Linked DNA regions of Homo sapiens. The protein of the gene in region 1 purifies or fractionates together with the protein of each later gene. This does not show direct contact. Each region holds a gene or a part of one and is shown on either strand. Other genes may lie near its edges.

The links.
Region 2: the proteins of TMEM266 (region 1) and TGFBRAP1 purify together in Homo sapiens (affinity purification with mass spectrometry; 2 studies listed by BioGRID and IntAct, with this or other methods). This does not show direct contact.
Region 3: the proteins of TMEM266 (region 1) and EDRF1 purify together in Homo sapiens (affinity purification with mass spectrometry, with the first as the bait; one large-scale study listed by BioGRID). This does not show direct contact.

The regions. Positions count from the first base shown.
Region 1 is NC_000015.10:76,058,433-76,062,797, forward strand, and holds the start of TMEM266 (transmembrane protein 266), read left to right. Parts: upstream 1-1,552; 5' UTR 1,553-1,584; intron 1,585-1,722; exon of another isoform or gene 1,723-1,808; intron 1,809-4,365. UniProt on the Homo sapiens protein: Voltage-sensor protein present on the post-synaptic side of glutamatergic mossy fibers and granule cells in the cerebellum. Despite the presence of a voltage-sensor segment, does not form a functional ion channel and its precise role remains unclear.
Region 2 is NC_000002.12:105,305,654-105,309,301, reverse strand, and holds part of TGFBRAP1 (transforming growth factor-beta receptor-associated protein 1), read left to right. Parts: intron 1-983; 5' UTR 984-1,000; coding exon 1,001-1,688; intron 1,689-3,648. UniProt on the Homo sapiens protein: Plays a role in the TGF-beta/activin signaling pathway. It associates with inactive heteromeric TGF-beta and activin receptor complexes, mainly through the type II receptor, and is released upon activation of signaling.
Region 3 is NC_000010.11:125,740,136-125,743,783, forward strand, and holds part of EDRF1 (erythroid differentiation-related factor 1), read left to right. Parts: intron 1-327; coding exon 328-516; intron 517-865; coding exon 866-1,066; intron 1,067-2,084; coding exon of another isoform or gene 2,085-2,104; exon of another isoform or gene 2,105-2,779; intron 2,780-2,922; coding exon 2,923-3,141; intron 3,142-3,648. UniProt on the Homo sapiens protein: Transcription factor involved in erythroid differentiation. Involved in transcriptional activation of the globin gene.

The DNA.
Region 1 (4,365 bases):
TGCCAAAAGTAGATACTCCCTGTATAGATATTCCCGTATAATCCAGGGAAGGTAGTCCAAGACCGTGGGGCAATTCCAAGAGGTGGTTTTGAAGTCCTTCAACTCTACCATTTTCATTTTATCCATACTAAAAAAGCTACGGCAGGAAGAAAAGACAAAGGACATTCCTGGGAGGCCAACTGGACCTAATCAAATAAAAACACTTTAGAAGAGGTACAAGAATCAGAAATCAAACCTATCTGCAGAGCCAAAAGCCATTCTGAAACTCCGTGTCCTAGAAACAAGGGTTTCCCATCTTTTCAAATATTTTAAGATAAAAATCGCAACACCCTATAGGAAAATGGCTATATTTTTAGCAAGAATTGGTGGAGAAGACAAACGATAATAAGCTACTATGAATCCAGAAGCTGCTTAAATGGCCGTATTCACAGCAGCCCTTGCAAACATTAATTAGAGTAGTACCCATTATGGGTGAGGACTTTTTTTTTAACCACAGAGAATATCTGTGGGTGCATCCAGATTGCTCAGTGGTTCCGTTTAACCCACCCGGTAACTGGCAATCATGGCCCTAGGACAGGCTTCTCCACCGGGGCGATGCTGCCTCCAAGGGGCGCAATGTTACTTTTTATGCATCAAGCACGGATAACACATACAGCACATAAGCAGGTCGACAGTGTATCTGCGGTACTGGGATTTCACGGGGAAAGGAGATGGGGACGTGTAAAAAGCCTTTTTAAGAGTCAGATAACGAAAAACGGAAAAAGAGGAGAAACACGGTCCTACAAGGGTCCTGAGCTGAGGCCATCAAATGAATGTACTGACAGGTATTTTTCTCCCAGGCAGCCAACTGAGAGTCAAGGCACTCTGACCGTGCTATGACTCCGGCCACACAGAAAGAGGTGTTTTCCCCTCGGTGGCCTCCAAGCGCAGCGGGCACTGCGTGCCATCCGCTCCCTCACCGGGCGCCCCGCGCGGATGAAACGGAGCAACTGGGAAAGAGCTCTGGAAACTGCAAAGCGCTGCGCCAAAGCGACGGGAGGTTCCCATTCTCAGCTGTACGAAATCCCGCGGGGGTCCTCCGCTTCCCCGAGCGACGCCCTCGGCCTCCGCACTTGTTGCTTCTGCGCCCCGCCTGCGTCCCCGTCAAACCCACCCTTCGCGGCCCCCTCGCCTCTCCACACGCTCGCACTCAGGCCCCGACCCTGCCCCGCGACCCCCTCACCCACGCCACGAAGCCCGCTCTGCGTGGCAGCCCCGGAGACAGCCGAGCCCCCGCCTCCGCCCCCTGCCCAGCTCAGGCCGCCAGCCCCTGCCAGCCGACGCCGCGGTTTCCTAGACAGCCGCGCCGCCGTTCCGCAGCCTCGGGGGCGCGCGCGCGCGGCCGGCGGGAGGCGAGGGCGCAGGCGCGGGCTCGGCCAAGCCGCCGGCGCGAGGCCTCGCGCGCGCCCCCGAGCGCGGTGGGCGGAGGGGCGGAGGGAGCGGCGGGGCCGCGAGGGGGCGGGGGGGCGGAGAGGGGAGCCCCGGGAGCGCGAGCCGCGGCCGGCGCCGCTGCAGAGCCGAGCGAATCCCGAGCCCGGGCAGCAGGTATGTGTCCTCGCAGCCGGCCGCGGCCAGAGCTTCCCCTGCCTCACTGCCCGAGTCTTGTGGTCGGGGCGGGGGGTGGGGGGACCGGTCAAGGTTTGCAGGATGCGTGCTCGGAAGGGCTGGGATCTTGCCGCTGACCTTCATCCCCCTGGCCGGGGGAGCCAGGCGAGGGTGCGTGGGGCAGCCCAGGGCTTCAGCTCCAGCCTGGAGACCTGCTTCTTGTCACATGCTTCTTATTTATTTTTGCAAACTGCCCTGGTTCGGGTCCAGCTGCAGATGCCTTACCTCCCATTCTTTGCCTCCGTGTGCCATCTTGCATTTATTAATAAAACATGCAAGCTGGAGGGGGGGGTTGCTGCTGGGGGGAATCCCATTGCAGTATGGCAAGCGGGCGCCTATTTTCGGTTTTCAGACGTGGTATAGAGGTGGAAATCCCACACCCTGAGGATTTGTGGCTTGGTTGGTCGTGACCACTTCCTAGTGGGCTTCCCCCGTTTGTCGGGAGGTGCCCCAGCGGCAGAATGGGCTGTCTGGAAGGGATGGTGGGTCTTCACCGTCAGGCCAGAATCCCCTTCAGGGGACAGGTGCAAGCTAGGGCAGGCAGTTCCCTGCTTGCTAACTTGCCAGGGAGGCTTAAACCTAGAAAATTGTCTCCCTTGATGGCCGAGAAAAGATGGCCTTCAACAGAATCCCTGGGACTTGCATACTCAAACTCATTACGGTTTTGCATCTGAACATGACTAAAGCTAGCCACCTGTTGGAAGTCAGACCCCATGAAACACCCCCGTAATCTAGCTCACCCATCCCTGTTTCACAGTCACCAATACTGAGCTAGCAATAGGCCCATATGGGTTCCCTCTATCCTCTTTAATGCTGCTTGGCTTTTCTTTTAAAATAAGACCTACCTATGATTTGATGCCCTATATGTGAGAGGTTGAAATTATATGATTTGTTTATATTCCATACACCTATCACATCATATCCTAAAGACTGAATTTCTCTTCAGTGCATGTGTTTATTTCCCTGGCTTTTCACCTTGCTTTGAACAACAGTGGGAAAATGGGATGTATATAACTGCTTACCTCCTCCCCCAAATACCTCCACCCTAAAATATTGTGATGAAAAGAATAGTAAGAGCTAGAAGCAAAAAATGAAAATGGTTATCACAAGATGTTGGGATATGATAGCTGAACCGTAATTGCTTCTAAAATGGTCAGAGTGTCACATCTAATCACGAGAAGGACATGTTTCTTAAATGTTCATATGTACCAGGTACTGAGCTAAAACTATTTGTGTATGAGCTCATTTAGTCCTCACAGCAAACCTGCTATGTCCATGTTGAAGATGAACAAGCCAGGACTTAGAAAGGTTAACTAACTTGCCCAAGGTCACACAGTCAGGGACAGGGTAAGGATGCAAACTCAAGCACATGGGGATACTGGAGGTGGGGAGCCCTGAGGGGGCTTTTCCTCCAGGTGCGGCTGCTCCGTGTACCTTTTCATTAAAATCAAGCTTATGCATGAGCATGTTGGCTTGGGTCTAATTTTCCATTTCATAGATTCTGCACCAACTTTGTGGCTTTCCAGTAAGAAAAGCAGTTGTTTCAGAATGGATCAGTATGGAATTTTTTGAGGTGGCACTAAACCTATAAAAAGTGGGGTCCAAGATGTGCTTCCATTTAATTCTCACACACAAGGAGTTGAGTTTAAAAAGTTGTTTCCCTCCAGATTTAAACCCATAAAACGTATATGCATTAAGTAGAATGAATCACTCCCATTTTCCATTATCGCATCCCACCCTACCCTCCTTGCTGCCCTTCACACTATCTTCTGGTCTCACTGCCAGTCATCAGAGCAACATTGTCTATCACACTTGCCTGTGAGTGCCTTAATGGGAGGAAGGAATCCATCCGTACCAGCCGTGGCTCGTAATCCAGTCTCTCTATGATTGTAGCAATTATGCATTCAAAGTTCTTGGAATCTCTGCATTCAGCTATGGATGTGTATTTAATCATTTTTTTAAAGTGCATTATTATAATGCAGGTATTGGATTTTGTTAAACATTCCTAGCAGTTCTCATGGACTTAGAAATTGCTGTAGTTGCATCAGTGAAAATTCACCCAGTGGGGCTAATAGCTTTTCTACTCAGGTCACATAGTTGAGATAGTGGTGAGAAAGGTATAGGTGAATAGAAGGAATTATTTGGAAAGTATATCCCATGCAAATAACAGCTTTTAATTATAAATTGATGAATAATATTAAGTAGGAAATATAAGACTATCTCTTTTAATTTTATAAGCTCTGTTTTTGCCTTGGTCAATGTGATTGGTTTTAGAGCAACATGATGTTACCTTTTTCATTACACTGTTCTTTTGAAACAGTATAGCGGTTTGTACATAGTATTCTTGCCTCGTGGGAAACACTCAGTTTAGGAGGAGCACATTCCCTGGTGTTTACAGAAATGCTGAGACAGGATCTTTCTGTCTTGGGGATTTCCAGTCTATGATCAGATAAACTCAAGATGAGTCCTGATGTTACTGGGCAAGAAGCAGAAAGCAAGAGGTGTTACTTGATTTCTGGGGAGGAAATGAGTTTTCCTGTGGGGAGCATCACTATCTTCTTCAGTTGGGAATCTCATGATTGAAGAGTTTGAGAAACGGACTAGTCTGCTGTCTTCCATTCAAGCAGGATTTCATTTAATGCAGAGCTGAGAAGGCTTTATCGTGCAAAGGCCAATTCAGGAAATATAAAAGTGTTTCTGGACTACTTTTTTTTTCTCTTA
Region 2 (3,648 bases), on another chromosome or scaffold:
CCGTCATTCTCTGCAGTCCTCTTTCCAGCTCTCTGATCCCCTGCCCTGCTCCCGCTCACAGGGACTGTGCCTTTGAGTTTGCTTCTGGCTGCCTGAGAAGTCAGAAAGGCCACCTTGCCTGATCTTCTCCCTGTGACTTTGTGGAGTGTGAAGCCACAGTTCTCTGCAGAAGATGAAGTAGGAGGCGACGGGCTAGTGTGTGGGAAAGTCTCACTTCCAATGGGAGCCAGGGACCGGTCGGTCCACACATCCACTAAATAGCTCCACTCACCATCTGAAAGCCTTTCGAGATCCGAGGCACACCTTTACTCTCCACATGAATACATTTACTCCGGAGCTGAGGCTGATGCGCCTGCCTTATTGGGAAGAACACAAAGGAATCCAAGGCCTGGCGTCTGCCTCGGTGTTCCTGGCAGGATCCTGTGACTGTGGTTGTGTTCATTGACTAAAGTGCATATTCAAGTAGCTGTAGAAACTCAGGGAAGATCAGTGAGGATCATTTCTGCCTTTTTCAGAAATCCTTTTTGTTTTTTTTTTTAAATGGGGTCTCATTATATTGCCCAGGCTGGCCTCCAGCTCCTGGGGTCAAGCCATCCTCCTGCCTCACAGAAATCCTTTTGTTATGTTGCCCGTGGGTGAATGCATGCATTTGTCTTCTGCCTTCAAGCGTGTCTCCCAGGAGCAATGTGAGGAGGCTCCAGGTGACTCTGTGTGGGGACTGAGCAGGATGGCACGTGATCACAAGCACATACATATGTGTATATGGGTGTGTGTGTGTGTATGTGTCTGTGGTTTTCTTCTTGGGTCTTCTGCTGTCTGATGGGGGAGGTCTGTGGGGAAATGGTTTCTTTCCATTTTTTGATAGCGTGGAATGACTTTCTTTAATGAAAATGACAACTAGGGAATCCACGTATCATTATTGCAGCCTCTGTTTCTGCTTCTTCCTTGTTCCTCTAAAATTAGTTTTCCTCTTTCTCTTCCAGCAGATCAGCCAGTAGACATGATGAGCATCAAAGCCTTTACGCTTGTCTCTGCTGTGGAGCGGGAGCTGCTGATGGGCGACAAGGAGCGCGTCAACATAGAGTGCGTGGAGTGCTGCGGCAGGGACCTCTACGTGGGCACCAACGACTGCTTCGTCTACCACTTCCTGTTGGAGGAGAGGCCAGTGCCTGCTGGGCCAGCCACGTTCACTGCCACCAAACAGCTGCAGAGACACTTGGGCTTCAAGAAGCCCGTGAACGAGCTGCGTGCGGCCTCAGCACTCAACAGGCTGCTGGTGCTGTGTGACAACTCCATCAGCCTGGTCAACATGCTGAACCTCGAGCCAGTGCCTTCGGGGGCCCGCATCAAGGGGGCAGCCACGTTTGCACTGAACGAGAACCCTGTGAGTGGGGACCCCTTCTGTGTAGAAGTTTGCATCATCTCTGTCAAACGCAGAACCATCCAGATGTTTCTGGTGTACGAGGACCGGGTGCAGATCGTCAAGGAGGTGTCGACTGCCGAGCAGCCCCTCGCTGTGGCTGTGGACGGCCACTTCCTGTGTCTGGCTCTGACCACTCAGTACATCATCCACAATTACAGCACAGGCGTCTCCCAGGACCTGTTTCCCTACTGCAGTGAGGAGAGGCCGCCGATCGTCAAGAGGATAGGGAGACAGGAGTTCCTGCTGGCGGGCCCCGGAGGGCTGGGTGAGGAGGATGCATTTGTGCGCCTGATCTTTTTGGGTGGCCTCGGTGACTGCGTGTTGAAACTGGAGAGTGAGATTGGCGCTGTGCAGAATAAATCCTCAGTGACATTGGGCGTGTGTGGCAAGACAGAGGTAGCAGTGCTTGACCAGTGCTTGATGAAATCCAGTTCGATTGTTCTGTGAACGTGGGGTTGGAGTCATAAAACCAGTTTCTTTCACATTAAAGTGGAGCTTGAAGACAGCTCTGGTGGTGTTACCGGGAAGTGGGGATATTCTCAGCCCTTAGTCATCTTGGGAGAAAGATTTTGGCCAAGAGACAATTCAGAGATAGCAGAGAGCTTTCTGAAGGGAAATAGAGAACAGAGAATTTATATGGAGAGAGACAGTACGTTCTGAAAGATGAGGCAGAGTGGGATGCTGAGAGAGTGAGCCAGCAGCCCTGAGAGTTCTGCATCGGGTTTTTATGATGCTGGAGTTTTTCTTGAAGTTCCCACCTCTGTCTTAAAGTTTCTGCCTTTTTCCTTTGTCTAGTTTTCCCGCTTCTGCCTTAAGTCCCCACCTTTTCCTCCCACCTAATTTCTACTCTAAGCTTGTGGGACCCTCTCTTACTAGTAGTTGGTGCACATGTACAGCCGGTGTTGGATGTGAATCCCACCTAATGGCTGCATTGCTCATTACCTCCACCCCAGGAAGGTTGTACAGCGGTTAGGTCCATACTTACTGCACCTGAATGTCTCTTTGGAATTTCTCCTTTACCCTCTTTCCCTCCTCTCTGCTCATATCTAGCATGCATGTTTTGTTTGTTTGTTTTGTTTTGAGACAGAGTCTCGCTTTATTGCCCAGGCTGGAGTGCAGTGGCACAGTATCGGCTCACTGCAACCTCTACCTCCCAGGTTCAAGCGATTCTCCCTGCCTCAACCTTCCAAATAGCTGAGATTTCAGGCATGCACCACCATGCCTGGCTAATTTTTGTATTTTTGGTAGAGATGGGGTTTCACCATGTTGGCCAGGTTGGTCTTGAACTCCTGACCTCAAGGGATCCACCCACCTCGGCCTCCCAAAGTGCTGGGATTACAAGCATCAGCCACCATGCCTGGCCAGCATGCATCTTTTTGATGGTCTCTGGGATGTGGGATTTTCCAGACCTCCCTTTTCTCAGGGGCTCTTCCCTCCCATTCATGTCTAGCTAGCTATCTACCCACTCTTAACAGTGGGAAAATTCTTTTAAGTAAATAACTACAAAAATAACTCTGGGCTGGGCGCAGTGGCTCACGCCTATAATCCCAGCACTTTGGGAGGCCAAAGCAGGTGGATCACCTGTGGTGGGGAGTTCGAGACCATCCTGACCAACATGGAGAAACCCTGTCTCTACTAAAAATACAAAATTAGCCGGGCATGGTGGTGCATGCCTGTAATCCCAGCTACTCAGGAAGCTGAGGCAGGAGAATTGCTTGAACCCAGGAGGCAGCAGTTGCGGTGAGCTGAGATCACGCCATTGCACTCCAGCCTGGGCAGCAAGAGGGAAACTGTCTCAAAAAAAAAAAAACAAAAAACAAAAAACAAAAAACCAGAAAACTCCGTAAGGGTTCCTGGTAAGATTTTCCCACAAGAGTGGGTTGTCATTTGATTGTTTTTGCTCCTCATTCTAAAAAGTTGTTGAGGCTGGGCTAGGTGGCTCACGCCTGTAATCCCAGCACTTTGGGATGCCGAAGCAGGCAGATCACCTGAGGTCAGTAGTTCGAGACCAGCCTGGCCAAAAGGTGAAACCCTATCTCTACTAAAAATACAAAAATTAGCCTGGTGTGGTGGTGGGCACCTGTAATCCCAGCTACTCAGGAGGCTGAGGCAGGAGAATCACTTGGGCGGAGGTTACAGTGAGCTGAGATCGTGCCACTGCACTCCAGCCTGGGTGACAGAGTGAGACTCTGTCTAAAAAAGTAAATAAAATTAATTAATTAATA
Region 3 (3,648 bases), on another chromosome or scaffold:
TGCTTTAGGAAGGTAAACTTTGACAGGTTGACACATAGACTGGAAAAAGGAGACAGGTGTCACTCATGAGGTTAGCTATGTCAGTGACACTGGAAGAGAATGACAGAGTTGCCGATGTCAGGGAAGCAGAAGGCCTTAGAACTCCCAAGTGAGAGTCTTTTAACACGGCCATTTCACTCCAGTGTATTTAAGCAGTAAAGCATAGTATTTACCAGTCTTGTCACCTAAGTCTAGAGTGTTTCCATCAAGAAACAGAAAATATTTTTTGTGCATGAGACTTACAGTCAAATGAAATGTGCTGTCTTTTTTTTTCTCTCCATGTCACAGTGGGCTCCCTTCAGAAGGGCAATTATTCCAGTCAATCTGGAATGATCCCTGGCTCTTGGCAACATAAAATGAAACTTCAGCTGATTCTCAAGTCATCAAAGGCCTATTATGTTTTGTCCGATGCTGCCATGAGTCTTCAGAAATACGGAAGAGCATTACGATACATTAAATTAGCTTTGCAAAGCCATGGTAAGCCACTATAAATGAATATGTTTAATAGGCACTGGGAAGAGAGAACAGAGAAGGCATCTGAATCACAGTGGAAGTTTACTCCTATTTTTCTAGTAAATCTTTATTTTAAAATGACTGTTTCCAATCCTGTGTGTGTTACCTTCTATTTTAGTTTCTGCTCAGTGGTTTAACATCTCTTTGCTTTGAACTACATGAAGCCGTAATATGTATTGTTGGACCTAAAATAAACAGAATAGATACAGTGCTACAAAGCGTTCAGCTGGTAACACAGTTTCTTCATATTTCCTATGATCATTAATTTTTTTCTGCATTTGTGTTTTTTCTTCTTCCCTCCCTTTCTAAACAGATACTTATTGCTGCCTCTGCACCAATATGCTTTCCGAAGTGCTGTTGTTTCTCTCTCAATATTTGACACTTTGTGGTGATATCCAACTAATGCTGGCCCAGAATGCAAATAATAGAGCAGCACACCTTGAAGAGTTTCATTACCAAACAAAAGAAGACCAGGAGATCCTGCATAGCCTTCACAGAGAGTCCAGTTGCCAAGGTGTGCCACAGGCTTGGACCACGTGGTTCACAGTGGGACTGTGCAGTCTAGCTCATGCTTATTTGAGTATTCAGAAAAGGGGTAGAAATATTAGAGTTTTGATATTTGCTCTGTATTTATTTATTTATTTTTTGAGACGGAGTTTCGCTCTTGTTGCCCAAGCTGGAGTGCAATGGTGCAATCTTGGCTCACTGAAACCTCCGCCTCCCGGGTTCAAGCAATTCTCCTGCCTCAGCCTCCCAAGTAGCTGGAATTACAGGCATGCGCCACCATGCCCGGCTAGCCCACCTTGGCCTCCCAAGGTGCTGGGATTACAGGTGTGAGCCACCACGCCTGGCCTGCTGTTTTATTCATTTCCTAATTTTAAGATTAAGCATGATCTTGTGTATTTGTATAAAATGGTTTTTAAGTATTTTATAATTACTGTTTATATAACTAGAACTAAATATAAAGTAAGATATGAAGACAGTTGTGTCAACTTTTTATTTTATTTTATTTATTTATTTTTTTGAGACACAGTCTCGCTCTGCCACACAGGCTGGAGTGCAGTGGGGCAGTCTTGGCTCACTGCAACCTCCACCTCCTGGGTTCAAGTGATCCTCCCATCTCAGTCTCCCAAGTAGCTGGGACTAGTACATGCGCCACCACACCTAGCTAATTTTTGTATTTTTGTTAGAGACAGGGTTTCACCACGTTGCCCCAGACTGGTCTCAAACTCCTCAACTCAAGCGATCCTCCCACCTTGGCCTCCCAAAGTGCTGGGATTACAGGCACGAGCCACTGCACCCAGCCTTGTGTCAGCTTTTTACACTCTTCTTTTCATGAGGTTCTTCTAGGTAACACTTGTAGTCAGCTAACAAAGCCATAGGTTTCCTTTTGAAAGGTATAACAGTTGGTGAAGGAGGTTAATTAACCTTCTGAATGATTCCTTGGGGCTGAAATAAAGTGATCATTGTTTTTAAAGTTAGTTCATAGCCACCTGTCTTGCTTAATATGTCACTCTGTTTGGAATTGTCAGGCTTTAAAACTGGGAAGTAGAATAATCTGATCCGCAGCAGCGATATCCCTCCCTCTTACCTCAGCACAGTGTGTAACCACGCTGCCATTAACACAGTGAATGAAGTAAAAGATGAGTCTTCTGAAGGTGCTTCTGTAATGTCTCATGGGGTTGTTTTATTATGCTCTTAAATTGTTATACTGAATATTACTTGATGTTTGCCTCCCAGAGTTTTAGACAATTCATAGCTAGAGGAGTATACTGGGGGAGAGGGAAAAATGTGTTATTTTGTAATAGTTTTGCCCTTTCTTCCCCTCTCTCCGTCTTTCTCAAATAATCATGTTTTAATGTAGTAGGAAAGTCCTTGGTGTATTTTTACTACTCCCATCATAGCAATTTCAGTTAAATATTCTTTTTACTCTAGTCCCCACTAGATGGCATTTTTAATCTTCGAGGGCTTCTGTAGCAGCCTCTTCAGTGACTTAAAGTTAATATTGGGACATTATTTCAAGAACTATTTCCATTAGTTAAAAATAGCAACTTTACTTTGTATTAGTGGACAACTTTAGGTCCATTCTAATAAACAAGTGTACCTGGGAAAACCTGGGTCACAGAAATTGTTTGATATTCATAGGCAGGAAAATATTTTTATCCAACATTAATATCCCAAGAAATATAATTTTATAAATAAATAGATCTTTATTATGAAACTTAAATATTGTTGTATTGATTGAATCTTGGTATACTTACACTATATTGCATTTTTTATTACTTAGAATTTAGAATCTCAGGTTCATTTGGATACTGAGGAAGAAGGAATCACATGATTCGCATTGATGTATCCCTTTTTTCTTTTCAGGATTTGCATGGGCAACTGATTTGTCTACAGACTTAGAAAGTCAACTCTCTGTTAGTTGTAAATGTTATGAGGCTGCTAATGAAATCTTGCAGTTTAGTGACTTGAAAAGCCAAAATCCAGAACACTATGTACAAGTATTAAAGAGAATGGGTAACATTAGAAATGAAATTGGTGTGTTTTACATGAATCAGGCTGCTGCATTACAGAGTGAGAGACTAGGTGAGTATCTCTTTAGATTCCTCTCTATTGCTTGTTCTCTCAGAAAATTATGCTAATTTTGTATGAGTCAAGCAAAGAACTGTGGCACTTGATTTTATATCATAAAGAGGTGCTCTATTAGAGAACCTCTTATTATTCTTAAGAAATAGAATTAGGAACACATGATTTTCCCTTGGAATGAATTATTTCAATGTTCTTCATTCTTACTTTTGTACTCACTCCATCTGATCAATTCAGAAGCAAATGGGACATCCAGCCATGTGCCAGGCTCTATGTTGGATATGTAACTGGCTAAAATATGGTTCTCTCTTCATGTTGGGAAGCTAGATAGGAACACAAAGCCTCAAAATGCTGTGGATGAGTACCGACGAAGTATAATGGGAGACTGGGGAAATAAGACATTTATGGAGGTTATAAGTTAGAAGGCTTTTGGGAAAGTGTTGTTGAGCAGGGTGATGCAGGATGTGTAGAGCATCAGCCGGCAAATGTGAGGAAAGGAGGGCACTC